Regions from separate parts of the Homo sapiens genome. Here region 1 is linked to region 2. The links come from fine-mapping of genetic effects on gene expression. A gene starts in region 2. The other region holds a variant in brackets. All regions are shown on one strand. Distances are between the middles of the regions. Region 1 overlaps NRP2 (neuropilin 2). Region 2 holds the start of NRP2 (neuropilin 2).

Region 1 (8,809 bases), 62 kb before region 2:
CCTGTCAAAGTATTTAGCTGCAGCAGCTCAGCCCAGCCCATTATTTTTCCTGTTATCCTTTGGGATAGGGATGAAGAAGTGAACCGAAGATGAGTGTGAGAAACAGATGGAAATTCGAAAAGCAAACATAGCCACGTGACCTATGGAGAACAGTTTCTGGAAATGTTAGGTAGCAAAATGGGTCAGCTGATTGGTGTAAAGAATGTTAAACCCAGGGGCCAATGAGGCACCGGAGGGCAGGGCGTGTAAATGAAAGTGGAGGAACGGCGGGCACCGAGGCCTCGGTGTTTATACTGTTTGTACTATGTTTGTACTGGGTGCTCCAAGGTAACTGCCCATCAAACAGCAACGCTACCCCTGAAATTGAAACCAGATGTCAGAGACTTCAAAGGAAAGGAGGCTGGGCAGAGGGGAACGCTCCTCAACTCTGATCTTCCAAGGAATGGCCAGGCAGGGCTTTGAAATAAGAAACCTGTCACTGACCATCACCAGTGTAATTTGGGGCATGTTGGGATTGGGGAGCAATGAAGGAAAGAGGTCATTAGCAACTGTCCCACTGGCCAGACTGGGAGGGCATGGCACTGAAGGGCAAGGGATGGGGGGAAGAATGAGGTGGACTTCATCCAGCTGAGTGACCTCTGGCAAGTGACTTCTACCTTCTGGGGCTGTTTCCTTGTCTATGAAAGAGGAATTGGCCCAGGTCTGTGATATTTCCCAAACCACGCATCACTCTCATCATTGGGTTGTGGAATCCGTCGAATAGGTCATGACCAGCTTTTAAAACATACCGACTATAATATTTTGGAGTGCACTTCCATGGTTAAGATGACCATTGCTTTGGGAACCTTTTGTTTCAGTTACAGTTATTTATCATAACAGGTTTGCTGGGTGCAGGCAGTAGTCTAAGTATTTCACATCCATTCATTCATTTAATCCTCACAATGACCCTATGGGGTAGACAGACTATTGTCCTCTCCATTTTTCAGCTAAGATAACCAAGGCGCTGAGAGACTAACTTTTCTGAGGTTATGCAGCCAGCCAATGGCAGGGGCAGGACTTGAACTTGGCAATCTGTCTCCAGAGTCCAAGCACTTACCCATACACTGTACCCCGTATACACCACTGTGTGTGAGTGCTTATAAGTGAAGCGGGTTGTGAAGGAAAATTATTTTAAATTGTGTATCATGGGCAGAAGTGTGTGAAAGCCACTGGCTTACAAGCTCCTGGATCCCCTACAGCGCTGAGCCCCTGATTCCAGGGCACATAAATGAAGCCAGCTTGTATCGGGGGGAGGTTTTCTGCACCTGTGAGAGGACGGGTGACACACGTTTAGCAGGCTGCAGGGAACTTTGGCCTCATCCCCAGGTAATGGGGAGTTAAGTGTCTTCCTATGAAGATGTGTTCGCTGGGGCTGCCTTCAATTCAAAAGTGAGGAGGCTAATTTGGGCCCAATTCCCAGCCCGTGTGCCTCAACAGGGCTCCTCTGCGCTGCTGTAGCCAGCATACAGGCAGCATTTTTCTCCCTGGGAGCCAAAAGCACTTCTCCGACATGCCCTTATTAATCCCTCATGCCATCCTGCCGGCTGAGCCCGTGACAGGTACGGCACAGACAGGAAAATGGGGATACCTGGGGCTCTGGCGGAGGAGGGCAGGATAGCTCAGGCTGGTGGCTGCTCCTGCTGGCATCAGGCTCAGTCCCTGAGCCCCAGTGGCTCCCACAAACTCCTTTTGGCAGGCAGTGAGTGAGCTCTGGGTAAGATCTGGTGCCAGCTCTGCTGAGGGAGGAGGGCTGGCGACCCAAGGAAAGGAAGGTAGGGCCTGACTCAGAAGGGCAGGGCCCTCCCTCGGAAACCAGGAAGGCTGGGCACCCTCCGTGGGCCTCACCCTCATTTGGAATGATGAGAGGTGTTCCCCAAGGCCTGGGCCACCTGGCAGGAATGAGCAGGACAATGAGAAGGAGTCCTGCCCCCATCAGCTCCCTGCAACAGGGTCCCTCCTGAGCAAATAAATGCCTTTTACAGATGTGGCTCCGAAATGAAAATGAAGTCTCTTAGCCACTGACATCTGGAGGCCAGATTCAGACATAAACCGATTACTTTATTATCATGAGGGGTTTTTTTCTTCCCTAAATCAACAGCCACAGCCCTCTGGCCTGAAGAGCCAGGGTCTAATTGAATTTGGGTGGGTGGTGTGTGGTTATGATTTGTTTTTGAGAGACTCGGGTTGGAGAACTGAAATGATCCCTTAAAAAAGACAAAGTACATCCCTTGAGAAACTGTCCCAAGTCCAGAGGCTGCAGTACCCGTGGTCTGAGGCAGGAGAACATGGCAGGGGTCTGCAGCATTTCCAGCTCCTGGGATGGCTGCCCCCTCCACAGCCCTCCCAGGGCCTCGTGGGATGCCAGGGTCAGAGGACCATGTGGGTGAGATGCAAAGAGGAGGAAATGTCATCTTACCTGTCCAGTCACAGCCCAGCACCTCCAGCCGCATCCCAATCCCCGCCGGCGACCACCTCTCCGGGTATACCCGCACATACTGTGCCGGAATGGGGTCAAACCTTCGGATGTCAGGGGTGTCATAGTGCATGTTCCCTTCGAACAGCTGCAGGGAGAGAGGCCACTCAGCCCTTCTGGTGTGGGACCCAGTCCCTATCACCTTCTTCCCTTTCCTTCCCCTTCTCCTCCCTGCCCCGCACGTCCTGCTAGGAAGGCAGCTTCCTAGTTGATTCCTGGTCACTGGGACATTCTGATCCACGCGAGCTTCATTTTCAGACCAAGGATTTTATTCATTTGGAAGGTGGTTATGGACCCAGAATTATGGAAAATAGGAAGTAAACAAAGGTGGCAATTTCCAGGTTGTGTCTTTTACCTGGTGACTAAAATGGAGTATCTGGGGAAGAATTTGGCTCCAACTGCGTTTTCAGCTGACTTTGGCTAGAGAGGGGGGAAGGCAGTTTGGGCGATCTTTGACCGTTCTGAATTCCTGGTCTACAGGGAAAGGAACACTTCTTTTTCTAATGTGTGAAAGCCTCCATTGAGGTAACCCAAGCTGACTGATAGTTCCTAGCTCACTGAGAACCTTACGGGAAAATGACCCCTAGGCCAATGACACTGTCTTCTGGTCACACATCGATAGTCTTAGACTGTTTCCCAAACCTTTGTTTAGGGAAAGCACTCCTGTCAAAAGAAACCTCACATGGAGCCCCAGTACATAAAACTGATGATGCGGGGAGCAGGGGGCTGCTTTGGAGGACCAGCCTAGAGTACACTTGGAGACACTCATCCGGGGGAAGGACAGGAGTGGGTGGCCAGGGCCTGCAGCTGATTAGCCCCCAGAAATTCAGCAGGACCGCTCCAGTTTTCAGGATGCCCTGCGTCCACAATTCTGAACCAGAAGCACTGTCTCGGATAGGGCTGTCTCCCACAATGGCAAAGATCAACTTCTTTCCCAAGAAAAACCAGGCTCAGCTCTCCATGGGGAAGCCTGCGGTCCAACTTCTGCTCCATCGATGCAAGGTTCCAGTTACCAAGCCCTGAGCCTTTCTAAGCCTCTGGAGTTGAGAGCTGGGAGTTTACCTCAGCATCGCAAAACCTCCAACCCAACTCTTGCCTCTGTATTCAGAATGGAGACATTTGCTTAGCAAAGGTGGCCCCGAGACATGCAAACTCCCTCCTTTTTTAGGGACCTGTTCTTTTGAGAAAAACAAGGGGTAACTAGAGATAAGAATCAGAGAGCCTGGCCTGCCAGGAGACTGATCTGGGGAGGGACAGAGGTATGACGTCTCCTCCCCTTCTGGGGCTCCTTGTGTCTGTGTTGAAGGCTGACCTTCACTCTGGTGGCAGGGGAGTAAGCTGTACTGGCCTGAGCTTCTGGCTCGGGGTGAGTTTCTCTTGCTTCTCCCTTGCCTCAGTCTGAGAGGCCGGAAAGATCTAAGCAGTCAAAACTAGGAGAATACAAAGGAATGCAGCGACATTCAGAAAAACATCGTTATTTTTGGAAGTCATCCTCTAGTTTCTATAGCTTGGCCTCCAAAAACCACATCCCCTTTAGATGTCTGGCCAATTTCAAGGAAACTTTATCTGAAAGAGTGTATAAAGAGTGTTGAACTTTATAAAAAGGCAGTGTTCAGTAGGGGTTAGGCATCTGGACTTTGGAGTCAGACTTCCGGTTTCTGAATCGGCTCTATCACAGGTGAACTGTGTGACCCTGGGCATGATATCAAGTGTCAGTTTATCATCTCTAAAATGGGAGTGACAAAAAGATCTACTTTGCACAGATGTTGTAACGATTAAAAAAGAGTCCAGGCCGGGCGCGGTGGTTCATGCCTATAATCCCAGCACTTTGAGAGGCCAAGGCAAGTGGATCACTTGAGGTCAGGAGTTCGAGACCAGCCTGACCAATACGGTGAAACCCCATCTCTACCAGAAATACAAAAATTAGCTAGGTGTGGTGGCGGGCACCTGTAATCCCAGCCACTCAGGAGGCTGAGGCTGGAGAATCGCTTGAACCCTGGAGGCGGAGGTTGCAGTGAGCCGAGAACAGGCCACTGCACTCCAGCCTGGGTGACAGAGACTCCATCTCAAAAACAAACAAACAAACAAACAAA[A/CAAAA]GAGTCAGAAATAAGGTATTTAGCACAGTGCCTGGCACAAAGTAATCTCTCAAACGATATTTGTTTTATTGGATTTCAGGAGTTGGATGACGACTGTTTAGATGGGACATCATCAGTCTCAACTCCCTGTACCACACTTAGCCTCCCTGTTGAGGGTAACGTTACAGAGGCCTCCAAGAACAGCCTACCTTTGGCTGCTGGGTCCTGGGGTCCTGAATGTATTCCCAGTCCTTGCCGTTTAGGCTGTAGGAGACTTTGAACTTGCGCACAAATGCTCTGGCTTCCACAGCAGTGATACTGTCTCCTCCGCGGGCTCCCTGGATGATGACACCTTTCACTGTCTTGGGTGTTCCCAGATCTACCTGAAGCCACTCCTCACCGGGCTGGGCCTGAGGGATTCGAGGGAACCAGCCCGAGCGGCTGCTAACCAGGCGGGCTGCACTGGGGCTCCAGAGGTATTCCTGGGTGGAAGAGGCGGAGATCTGGGAGTCTGCAATGAGGCCTGAGAGCATCCCCAGCATGTTGGAGCAGGGAGCATCTGCAGAGAGGAGAGGAAGATACAAGAGGTCATGGCTGACACCTGCTAACCAGGGACCACCCGCTATAAGAAGGGAGCTGCAAAAGAGCCCAACTGTCAAATACTAAGTCAGCACTAATTTCTTTGCATGGTGAATGTGTACAGCACTGTGGTTAAGAGCCTGGACTCAGAGCTAGACTGCCTGTGTTCATGTTCACTCTGCCACTTACTAGTCAGAGGGCCTTGGGCAAATTATTTAATTGCTCTTTGCCTCAGTTTCCTTAGATCTAAAGGGGAGCTAATAGAGGTGCCTACCTCTTGAGGGCTGTTGCAAGGATTCTGTTAGTTACTAAGAGCTCACAGGATGGTGCCTGGCATATTTAAGTATCCAATGGCCATTAACTATTTGTGCTTACAGCTCTAACCAAGGACTCTCAGAATGTGTGTCTGCACATCCCTGTCGATGACACTAGTCCCCACTGACCCTATCAGGGACACTGAGAACAGGGGAACTGAGCTAAACATTGAATTATTTCCTAGTAATTGTTTTGCCAAGTAGAAGGAAACCTTCCTGGCATCAGTATCAGGTCTTTACTTCCCAAATAACTGCTCTTTACTGCCTTGGATCCTTCCCACATGCTGTTCCCATTACCCCAAATGCTTTTCCCTTCAGTCACCCCCAGACTAACATTTTCTTACCCCCAAGCTCAAGTGTCATATCCACAGAAAAGCTGTTCCCAAATTTTCAATCCTCACTAAATTGGTTTCCCTCAGAGCACCCTGTTCTTTTCCTTCATGTGCACATTCTAGTTTATCCAGTACTTGCATTTGTTTATTATCTATCTTGCTCAGTAGCCTGAAAGTTCTACGATGTCAGAGACCCCATCTATTTTGTTCCTGTCTCTATGTCCCATTCCCAGTGTGTGCCTGGCACATCAGATGTGTGGAACAAATGATTGAGTGGAGAATGCATGAATAAATGATGTCAGGCAAGGCAGGGTCTATAGTCAATGTGCATTTCATACTTGCAAACTGAGCTATGGATAAAAAAGATCCTCCACGTTGTTCCCCTTCTTCAAAATCACTGGTTCTCTCCTTTCAATCTTCCAGAGAATGACCTCTACCTAAATCTTTGCTGATTATCCTGGAACAGCAACAGGGAAGGGACAGAAAATAGTCCCCTAGACAGGATTAGCATAAACTGATCCCATTAGAAGAAAATGGGTCTTTGTGTAAATGTGGTAAGAGCAGAGAATTTGAATTGAGAAAACGTGGGTTCAGATCCTGGCTCTGTCACCTCCTAGTTGAATGACTTTGGGCAAGCTATTTAGCCTCTTTGAGTCTTGGTTTCCTTATCAGTCCCTGGCCCACCTTACCTCACAGGGTTGTTAGAAAGTGTAGGCAAGATGATAAACAAGAAAGGCATGTGGAGATGCAGAGACTGTACAAACACAAGGTGTTTTAACTAGAAACCTCAAACAGGGTCAGACCTTGGAGCACTCCCTGTCAGAGCTGGAATGATTAGGGGAAAGGCACGTGGATGGATGTACACTGAAGACACTTCCAGGTCAAAGAGGCAACTTGCCTGCCCTGGGCTGAGCCCACAAGATAAAGGGGATTGGTCTGTCCATAAATTTCTGGGGCTAATCCAGCCATCATCATCTCCCATCTGCACCCCCTGCATTGCCTCCTATAATGTCCCAACTCCCACTCTGGTCTTCTCCAATCTACATGCCTTGGGTTTCAGCCCACAAGCTGTGTCCATGCTCCTCACTTCCTCTTTTGGTCCCTCTTGCCACCGTGCCATTGAGAAAGCTGTGACCATTGCCTGGTGCACCTTCCCTCCCTTCTTCACCAGGTAATGTCTGTTATTTGCCTTCTAACCTCACCTCAATCATCACCTCCTCAAAGAAGTCTTCCTTGAGCTCCTAGGCTGGGTCAAATCCCCTACGATGTACTTCCAAGGACCATAAGCCTCTATGTCCAGACATTGATCATAGTTTTGATTTTATATTTATTTATGAGTTTATCAGTATGTCTGCCCAACTTGTCCATATGCCCACACAGAACAGTCTGTTGTGCCCACCTTTGTGTCCACAGCACCATGCACAGCTCTTGGCCCCCGGTTGAGGCAGCAGAGAGTGTTATTTGAAAGCAAGGGCTTTGGACTGGAACTGCCTAGATTCAAACCATGGCTCTACCACTTACTGGTGAGTGACCTAGCTCTTTAAGTCTTGGTTTCCTCATCTGTAAAGTGAGGAGAATAATACCCATGGAGTCCTTATGAGGATAATAAAATATGTTACATCTTAGGTGCTTAGAATGGCATCTGTACCTAGTTAGCATTCCATAAATGTTAGCTATTAATAGAAATCGTAGATGCTTAATAAATGTATACTGAATGAATGAATGAAAAGACAAACTCTGGTAGGACTTGAGTCCTTGAGCCAGTCTTTCTGGGAAGGTCATGTGGTGCAGTCATGCTGTTTGCAGAGAGTTGAAAGGGAGCAGAGCCTAGGGCTCAATCAGCACCCCAACCTCATTGGAGCCCCCACCTCACCTGTGACCCGGCAGCCGAAGAGCTCCAGCCGGAGGGCGATACCTGAGTGCCAGGTCTGAGGGCGGATTCTAACAAACCTTGTCAGCAGTGGAGCGTGGAGCTTGTTCAGAACCACCTCAGTTGCATCGTTGTTGGCTTGAAATACCTGTAGCGTAAGATGCAAAACCATGTTATTGAAACCCCTGTTTGTAGTTCAGCCACTTGAGCAGTCTTTGAAGGGGATGGGAAAGTTCTGTCAAATTTTCTTTCCCTCAAGCTTAAAAATAATCAGTGGGTATGTTGTTTTGGGCTTTTTAAAGAAACACTGTAAAAAAAATTAATTTCTCACACTGTTCTACTTGAAAATTATCAGTGGTCTTCCCAGAAACTTTTAGAGGGAAGGAAAATTTTGCCTCCAGGCTGAGAGCAGGCAGAAGAAGGAAAACACTTGAGAAGCTAAGGAAGAAAGAGAAAAGTAGAATATCTGTTTAAAATGAAGTAAAAATATCATCTTTTAGGGCTACCAGACCTCACTCACTAGCTTGAACTTGACACTCCCTCTTCCTCATGTTGCAGGCACCTAGGAATATTTGCAGAGCATTTTCTAATTGCAAAGTGCTTCACGGTTGTTTTTGTTAGTTACTTGATGCCATCCCACCCATGAGCGGACAAGATGATGAGGGGCACCCTCTACCTACAATGGCCCTGTGTCAATCAACACTTTCTTGGTTCTCTCTGATCTTTGTGGCAGGGTCAGGGTTGCAGACAGTCCTTCAGAGTCCTGCTCCAGCTTCCTCTCACTGTAGTCCTGCCCTGTAATGAAATCCATCCCTGTCCCCATCTGACCAATACATCTCTTATGGGAGGGAAGGCTTTTTGGAACAGCTTCTGATCCTACATGGTGGGAGCAAGTCCTGGCTTTCCAGATGGCCCAGATCAATAACTGCCATATGGACCTTATGCTTTTTTGTGCTCTCTGCTCAAAAAAAAAAAAAAAAAAAAGTAACTAGAGCAAAGTATATGTGAGTTTCCCTTGGTTTTCCTGAATAAGGGTAGAGGGAAAAACCAACTAACCAACCATCACTTCTAAATCATTTCTGTCATAGCTGTAACAACCAAGGGACTCTGTAAATCTACTTACAGCCAAC
Region 2 (8,809 bases):
AAGTTGCGCGCATTCCTGGGGCTCAAGCTGGTTCCTTCCCGCCTCTCTCCGCCCTCCTCTCCGAAATCCCACCCCAGTTTCCTCTCACCTAGTTGGGCCAGCGCTTGGATTCCCAAGCCAGCCGGCCTCGGCCTCCCGCCACTCAAAGCCGTCTCTCTAGGGGTCGCGGCGAGCCTGCCGCGCAGAGCGGAGCGCAGGGGACTGGCGGGGGCGCCCGGGGCAGGGAGGGAGGCAGGCTAGCGGCTGCACTGCGGTCTGGCGAGGCGGCGCAGTGAGGAGAGGGGCAGCCTGGTGCGCGTCGCCCATGCGGCCTCCCAGCCACGCGCCAGCCCAAGGTGCCGCGCGCCGCGACCGCCGTGTTATTTGCTCAGTTGCTCCCCCGCGCGCACCTTCTGCCCCATCTTGCTCCTTCCCAGAATTGGTTCTCGTCGCCGGCGGCGGCGGCTGAACCAGGCCCCCTTCCCGGCCGGCGCACACCGGGTGAGTCAGAGGTATGTGGCTTGGCCTCGCCCTGGCCACCCGCTGCCGGCTCCCAGGGTGCCAGTGCTTTGCTCCGCCTGAAAGCCTGAGCAGCTCACGGCTTGAGATCGCATTTTGGGGAGCTGGAGGTCCCTGGCAGGTCCCAGCTTCGAATCCCACCCTGAGATCCCACCCCGGGTCCGAGGTTGCCCCGAACTCCGCGCCTCTGGGCTTCTCTGGAAGTGACGCAGCACTGCTGGGGATTGGGATGGGAGGGGGTTCTGCAGAGAGCGCGGCAGGCAGGTGGCAGAGCGGGAGTGGGTCCAAGCGGGTGTCGCGCACACACGTACACACACTCCAAGCAGCGCTCGGGGACAGATGTGCGAACATCTGGGGTAGGAGATGGCCCCTGAGTCTTCACGACCCCTCCCGCTCCGCACAGCACACGGAACCTGAAGTTGCATGTGTGTGCGCGCCAGTGTGAGTGCCAGTGTGTGCGCGCTCGCGCGCTGGGGCCTACTGGAGTCCGTGTCTGAATACATAATATACTGTGGGCATCCTCACGGCGCGCGCGCGTGTGCACACACACACAGCGAATCACACAAACATACATAATTTACGCAGCATCCAGGTCTGTGAGTGGTAATTTAATTCCGCTTCAAGCTGGGAATTTAGAAATAAGGCAAGGGGGAACGGCGGAGGCCCAGAAAATCTCCCCAAGTGGGACCCCCACCCATCCCTTTGGCAGGATTTGCAGCTGCCCTGAAGACCACTTATGGCAAAGAAAGAGCTGCAAACGTGCGGATCTGGGTGGCAAAGGCATTCCTGAATTTTCTTCCCCCCTCAAATAAATGCCCAAGCTTAAAGTGGTGTGTGTGCTGGTGGGGGGCGTGAGGAGAAGGAAGGGTGACAGTACCAGATGCAAGGCTAGGATCCACTAGCTGATGTTCTGGGGATGCCAAGGAGGCTGCAGAGTTAGCTCTACCACTGCCGCCATCGCCTTGCAAGTGCCTTGGGTGAGGGCACTTCAGGAAGGCTTTTTCGCCTTTCTTTCACCCATTTCCTCCATAGATGGTTTCTCCATCTCCAATCACCTGTAGCAGCTGCTAAGAGTTTTGTTGTTAGATTCCAGACACTGTTCTCAGAGGGGTAGGGAGGCTCACTCTAGAGAGTGGTCCGAGAAGGAAGCACAAACCCCACTGCATTCCCCATGGATTCCCCTTTCCAGAGCATACCCCTTGCCGCTCCCCACAAATGCGGTCCCCAGACTGTTCTGGGCCTCGAAATGCTTATCTCCACAGCAGCCTGTCCACACACCCTTTTTGGCAGTGGTTGAGAACAAATTCCACTCAAAAGTTTCTAACCACTTCACAAGAGTGAGAGACCTTCGAGGGCCTGCAATTTGTTTTAGCTAATAATAATTTCTAAAAGAACGTACGATTTACTTTCCCAGACAACACATGGATGAAGAGAGAAGAGACCAACCGTCTTGGTTGCCAGCAGCACCCAACCCCAAGCCCCTATCTCAGCCACAAGCCAACTTGCTCCACCAGCCTGAGCCTTATGATTCTGAAGCATAACCAGTCATTCTCCAAAGAATCTACAGCATCTGAAAACCAAAACTAAACTCTTGTCTTTCCCAAGCCCTTCAGTTAACATTGCTCAATGTAGCTAAGTGGAGGGAATGCAAATGATTTATATTTCACTGGCTAGTTGGAGAAACTCAAGGGAGATGTGTTCTGCTTCAAGACAGGGAAAAAAAATTCCCAAAAACTGTAATGCAAAGGCTTTGTAGTATTTTTAAACCTTTGATTCAGTCCATATGTGACATATGAACACCGCCAAATTCTGTTTCAAAACACACTCACACACACACACACACACACACACACACACTCCTAGCAGGAGAGGAAAGTTGGGTTTTAGCAGCCGTGGTGGTGTAGGAAGGGCCGGCTGGGATCTCTCTTTAAATTATTGAGTACTGAGGGAGCCTTCTTCTGTGCCGTTCTGCGTGGCCTTCCTGCTTTAGCGGTCACTTTTAAAGGGGAAACCATGTTGCAATAAATAGAAAAACTTTCAGTGGCTTACCTGGTTGGCCTCTCACTTGGTGTCTTGAAAAGTAGAGGGCTAAGAAAACCCAGGTGAGAGGAAACATATCCATTTTGGAGAAGGTGGCTCTTTCCAGAGCTGGGTTCGTAGGTTTCTTGTTTAAATCTTTGTGTTTTTCTCTCTTTTATTTTCCTCCTTACAACGTCTTATGCAGAGGTTTCTAATGGTCAGCGTTTCCCTCCTGAGTCCTGGTGGCTTGTCTTCACCTCTATTCTTGCTGGAATTTCCACCTCACCAGGAGGAGAGTAGCTCCTGAAATCAGCAAAGAGGGAACAAGCCGGGAAGAGAACACGGTTTTCCTCTTAAAAACAAAACGCATATATGTTCTCTCCAGTTCCTCAAAGTGTCATTTCCTTTATCCTACAAATATCACGAGTATTTCCCGAAAGCCAAGCGTAACAATAATGATAATAATAATAATTAAAACCAAGACTTGCCTTGGGCATCACACGGCCCCCAGGCAGCTGTGTGATCTCAGAGGCGTAAACTGACACACATCCCGCGGCACCCTTGACGGACACACGGGCGGAGGCAGCCGCCGCCGGACAGCCCGAGTGGAAGGCGGCCGCCCTGCTCTTGTCCTCGCCGGGTTCCCCCGGCGGGAGCCTCCCCCAACGGCTACACCCGCTTGGCCAGCCTCTCGAGGGGAGTCTGAGGAAGGAAGCTGCTGCTGCTGTTGCTGCTGCTGGTGCGGCGGCGGTGGCGGCTGGGATCGCCTGGGAGTGAGCGAGCCCCTCTCCGAGTTCGCTGGCGCCCGCCCTCACCTCCACCTCGCCGAGTGTCTGTGCGGCTGAGGATGTGCTGGGGGCCGGCTGCAGGCTGGTGCCTCGCTCGCGATCTCTGCCTCCCCTCCGGCTCCCCACTGCCTTTTCAGGCCGAGCAGCATGTGGATGTCAGAGCCGCGGCAGAGCTATCCGATTACGCGCCGGCTCAGGGCCCGCCCCTTCTGTGTTCCTGATTAAAGAGGCAGCCGCGGAGACGCGCGGCGCAGAGCAGAGTGCCGCGGCACCCAGCTCGGGCGGGGCGGCGACGGCTTCTCTCGGGCCGCCGCAGGATCGAAGTTAAGGCGGCGCCCATCCCACCACCCCTCGCCCGCCCCGCATCTCCCGATCGCCCCCGCGCACCTCCGCGCCGGGCCGCCGGTGCGTAACGCCCTGGGGAAGAAGCGCCCCCGGGCACCCCCAGGGCGCGCCGCCTTGGCCGTGTCGCCCCCACCCAAGGGAGACCCCGGGGGGACGGGGGGAAAAGCCTTGTTCCCCCTAAATTCCACGACTCCGATGCCACACACGCAGAACCCAACACAATGCCACGCGCGATGGCGTTACAAGAGGAGTTGGGTGGCGTACGGTGTTTGGGGTAGCGAGCCGGTCGGCAGCTCAGCCATGCGTTCGAACAGGCAGCGGTGCGTGGCGGCGACACACACCGTCAGCCCGGTCTGAATAAAACCCCAAACACTCGCTGCGTTTACTACTCAGATCCTTTGTTATGTCCCAAACATGCTCTGCTCCTCTCTGGGTTAGGATTTCGTTACCCCTGCGCCTTTAACTGTAACTACCCTAAAAAGAGGAAAGACTTTCTTCAGCAAATAATTTCTTCAGGTAATTAAATTGGATTCCATCAAGTTCCCCCGAAAAAGTATAGGTGCTTGAAGGCGTCTCATCCAAATGCTACTGTAACTACGTCTATTCACATTTTCCCCCATGGAAACGTGGTCACAAAGCCTAGAGAAAGAAAACATCATTATGCCAACTATTTTTAAATGGAGGCGTGAAAACTGTTTAGAGGGAACTGCAAGCTAACAGTTGGGGAAACACTTGTATCTTTGTTTCTGAGGATGGCTTTGTGGATTCCAAACTGTCTTGCTTCACCAGACACCTATTACTACATTATCATAAAGACTGCAACAGAAACAGCCTAAATTACACCCTGCACATGTACACCTTTTCTGCCACAAAAGAGGTATATGAAAAATAAGAAAATTCAGAAAAATATTTACAGATTAAGATTTTTTTTAAATTAAGAAAGTAAAATTTTCTGTAGATTAAGAAAAATACAGTTTCGGTGACGAGAAACACACACCTGACTACCCATTTTCTTCTTGGCTTGTACTTGTGGATTCTTCTGGGTGGTTTCCCTCCTTATCTGGACTTGCCCATTAGCTTTATCACTTTTAGTGTTTGAAAAATCTGTAACTCCCACTTAACTGTTATTTACACTGAGATAACCAAAACAAAATTGAATCAGAAGTGATTTGCAAATAGTTGAGCCAAGCTGTGTTGGGGGGTGGCGCGGGATTTTAGAGTGGAAATCCACAGGCTGAGTATCACACTGTTAATCTCAGATGCCTGGTTGGGAAAGGCACAGCACAGAGGCCTCTGAGTTCTTCCAGGGAGCATGTCTCTTGGCTAGCCTAAATGCTACCTTTCATTCCCTCTTTGCCTCCCTCCTTCCTCTTCCTCCCTCCTTTCCTTCCTTCTTCCTTCCTTTCTAGGCTTGAGAGCACATCCACATTATTAAAAACTCCAGATTTACATTTCTCCTCTTTAAAGCTCAATTGTAAAGAATGACTCCAAGCCTTAAATATTTAACAAAGTAAAAGAGCAGTTTGGATTATTAACCTTAAGCAGAGATCCCGGTTTATGTCATTGCCAAGATGCTAATCTAAGGACAAAGAACGCTATCTGTAGTGACAGTCCCTGAATAGAGAGGGCCATTTAATATCACCTCTCCCCACCACTCACCAGGCATGCCAAACCATTTTTGCCAGTGCCCAATGTGGGAGACTCCTGTTTGTGAGAATAATGTAGCCAGGGTTTAGGTGAAGGGCACTGTGAAAGGGGGAAAGAAGAGAGAAAAGGTAAACCTAAGCCCACTGGAGAACCATAAGAATGACAACCCTGGACTTCTGGTCTTGGGGTCTCAGGGATGAAGGTCCCCATCAGGCTGCTTCCAGAGTAGAGAAAAGTAAGAATCAGTTTTGTTCCTGGCCTGGTTGCCTACACTGTAACTTTTCATTTTTCAGCGGTGTCCTACAGGGGACGCTCACTTACTTCCTGGGAGTCCTCTGTACCAGGGCTGCAAGACTTCCCACTCCCCTTGAGTGAAGGCCTCATTTCCTGCAGTTGGACAGAGAGTGAGTCTCAGGTTTCCATCCCTGGGGACTCAAGCGGCCAGACCATTTTTCAATCCTCTAGGGGGCAGCACTCAATAAATAATGGTAACACCACCCAGGGTCACACTTCTGGTGGTGCTTTTAATTCCAAGGAGTTCAAAGTGCTTTATCAGACCAGGGAAGATTCAGAGTGAGGCCGATCTCTCCCCAGCCTACTCTGAACAAGACCCCACCGGCCCAGAGAGGGCTTAGAATTGTTTTAACCTAAGACTTCCAAGGACTCTTGGGAACTAAACACAAATCTCACATGTGCCACATGGAAAACAAATCTTTAGGGAAATTCTTCACACTGGGACTGGCTCAGACCTGCCAGTCTTGTTTCCCTCTAGACTGGGATCTCAGGGTTTGACTGCAGTTGGTCTGGTTTCCACCAGAGGTATAGTGGTAAAGAGCTAGGTAGGCACCGTGCTTTTCAGTATTTTGTGAGTCCACATCCCTGGCCCATAGGGAAGCCTGCCTACCTAAAGGCCAGTGTCAAAAATCGGGTTTGTGATCAAAAACACTGAGCTGACTAGATAACAGCTAATTAGCGAAGCTGAGATTCCTGGCCACATCACTGACTCACCTAGGATGTTTCATGTCATTATCCTTAGTTGTAAAATAATACTAGATAATCCACTCCACATTCCATTCCTTTGACGGGAAGGGATGTGGGGGAACATGAAACAGGTTGGTAAATGATGCTAAGAGAAAGCTGTTACCAAGCCACACCCCTGTGGAAAGTTAAGTGTTCCCAGCTAGACAGTCCCAAACCTTAGGGTATATCAGCATCACCTGGAGGAAGTGTTAAAAATTCTGATTCCTGGGAACCATTTTCCTGCAGGTGAAATTCCTTGGGTCTGGAGTGGTCTTTGGGAATCTGTATTTTTAACACACATCTTAGGTGATTCTGATGCAAAGCCTCCACAGACCAGTAGTTGGGAACTTCTGATCTGATGTGTTCTATTTACACACAGCCTTCCATAAATGCTCTTCCGTTGAAGGAAACCTGGACAAGCATTCCTTCACATTTCCTCTCTGGGTACTTTTCAATATGGGGCAGATGTTTCAGGTTTCTTGGAAAAACCACCAAGAACAAGTTCTCGAAAATGCTGCAGTGGTGGAATTCCCAGATTTACCTGTGACCTTTAGCAGCAACTGCAGAGAGCCAATTTGAAAACACCAAAAGCCTCGCCTCATGCAGGCAGGAGCTTTGCAGGGACATGTTCAAAGTAGCGGCTGATGGGTTTATGAGCTGGAGCCAGACCTTTCATCACCAGCCCACTCAACCATTGGTGGTTACTAGAGGTTCGTTTCAGGTATGCTTTTCCATCTGTGTTCATCCCACTGTACTTACGAAATGTTCATGGATGCATGACTATGCCAGAGGTATGCGAGCAAGACAGAGATTTAGGTCTTGCCTCTCGGGAACACAGGATCTAAAAGCTCCAGAAGTTTCATGCTTCCACAATAGATATCACGTGTCACATGGTGCTTCCCCTTATCGGAGCCCTAACATCAATAAGCTCTCACCCTGAAAAGGAAAGATCTAAGGCATAATTGCATCTTAATCTGTAATTTAACACACTGCCCTAGTTAAGGTTTAGCTACATCTGTCTCAGAAGCAAAGCTTCAGTTAAAATGGAATAGGTCCTAATTTATTATTCTCTCTTTTGTTTGATGTCAAAGTCCAGGTTTCTGGTCACTAAGGGTTTTTTTTTTTTTCTTACTCGCCTTTTAAACAATCAACTTTTTTTTTTTCCAGCACACTTGAATATTGCCCAGTAGTTTCTATTTGACATTTCTATTCTAAATTGATATTTCTAGTATATTCTATTTGGTGGGTTTCTGGAATCCTTACAGATTTCCATAAAGTATTGAAATCTCCTTCACTCCATACTGGGTGTATATCTCATTTCTTCCTCAGACACAAACACTGGATCTGGTAGGAGGGGCCCTTATGAAACAAAATTTAAAAAGCAGCAGCAAAATGTGCAAAATTCATTCAGACCTCCCTGGAATCCTTGGAAAAAGAACCTAAAGAAGCCCTATTGCTTCTTCCAGTCTGCCTGGCTTTAGCATGAGTCTGATCTTCCTATGCTACATTAATTTTTCTACCTTTGAGGCAATAAGCGTATCAAAAAGACCCAGTCAACCCTCTCCCTTAAAACAGCACTCTCCATTAAATCTTCTGCAAGGACGGTGGTCTCTGTGCTGTTCACATGGCTACTGCGCACTGGAAATGTGGCTAGTGTGAGTGAGTCACTGAACTGTAGGTTGTATTTAATTTTATTCATTTAAATGTAAATTGCCGCATGTGCTTACCAGCTACCATGTTGGACAACTCAGCCTCAGAATCAAAAGACCAGAGCTGAATAATTCCCATAGAAACCCATAGAAATTCACACCCTTATCAATCTCTGTGGTTACCATACTTGTTTGCCAAGAAAGGAACCCCAGTATCAGCAGAAGTTCTGATTACCAAGGCAGCATTTGAAAATGCTCACTGTCTGTTTGGTTAAGGAAGAGAAGAGCTAGCTTATATTCATATTATTGTCTATCATCCCATGTTCTTTCTACGCTCTCTTGGATGACTTTCCCAGAGCACTCACCAGGAGTCAGGGTCTTTATGATGCTCTCCCAGCTTCGGGCCTCAACTCCACTCGTCAGTGGAGACCACCGCGGAGAAGCAGGTGGGGGCAGCAGAAGCCTTGAGGACAGGGCAGCTGGACCTTCAGTCTCTACTTGGGTGTCCTTGAAAATTCTGTTAACCAATTTGGAACCACTTTTCTCACCTACAGAATGATGGGTTGACTTGAATGATTTTTAACCTTATCTGGTTTTGAGTTTTGGCTATGACTCTTTCCTGATCGCATTCTCACTCGTGGATTTAAAACAGGCTTTAGTCTGAATTCTGTAGGCCAACCTAAGCAAGTTGAAATTAATGCTCTTTTATCCTTAAACTGTTAATGCATGGATGGGGCTTCAATGGATATTCCATCATCATAGTATTTGCATTGGGTACTTTTCCCAAACAGCGAGTGCTAATGAGTATGTCAGGCATCTTGGCAGGGCTTTTTGAGGAGATAT

Evidence for each region.
Region 1: its variant is fine-mapped to the expression of NRP2 in monocytes after interferon gamma (Fairfax 2014, PIP 0.95). The same link has a PIP of 0.9 or more in monocytes after LPS.

Annotation. Positions count from the first base shown.
Region 1 is chr2:205,739,537-205,748,345 of GRCh38, reverse strand. NRP2 (neuropilin 2) reads right to left here. Exons shown (of 17, transcript NM_003872.3): 8 at 7,683-7,827; 9 at 4,794-5,143; 10 at 2,456-2,600. Among named protein-coding and RNA genes, the nearest start is that of NRP2, 61 kb to the right of the region's middle. RefSeq lists enhancers at 1-191, 1,158-1,709. The variant A/CAAAA (reference allele first, on the strand shown) is at 4,606.
Region 2 is chr2:205,677,102-205,685,910 of GRCh38, reverse strand. It overlaps NRP2 (neuropilin 2), which reads right to left and starts at 3,410. Exons shown (of 17, transcript NM_003872.3): 1 at 2,548-3,410. The coding sequence starts at 2,620. RefSeq lists enhancers at 785-1,415, 6,297-7,496 and a silencer at 3,890-4,009.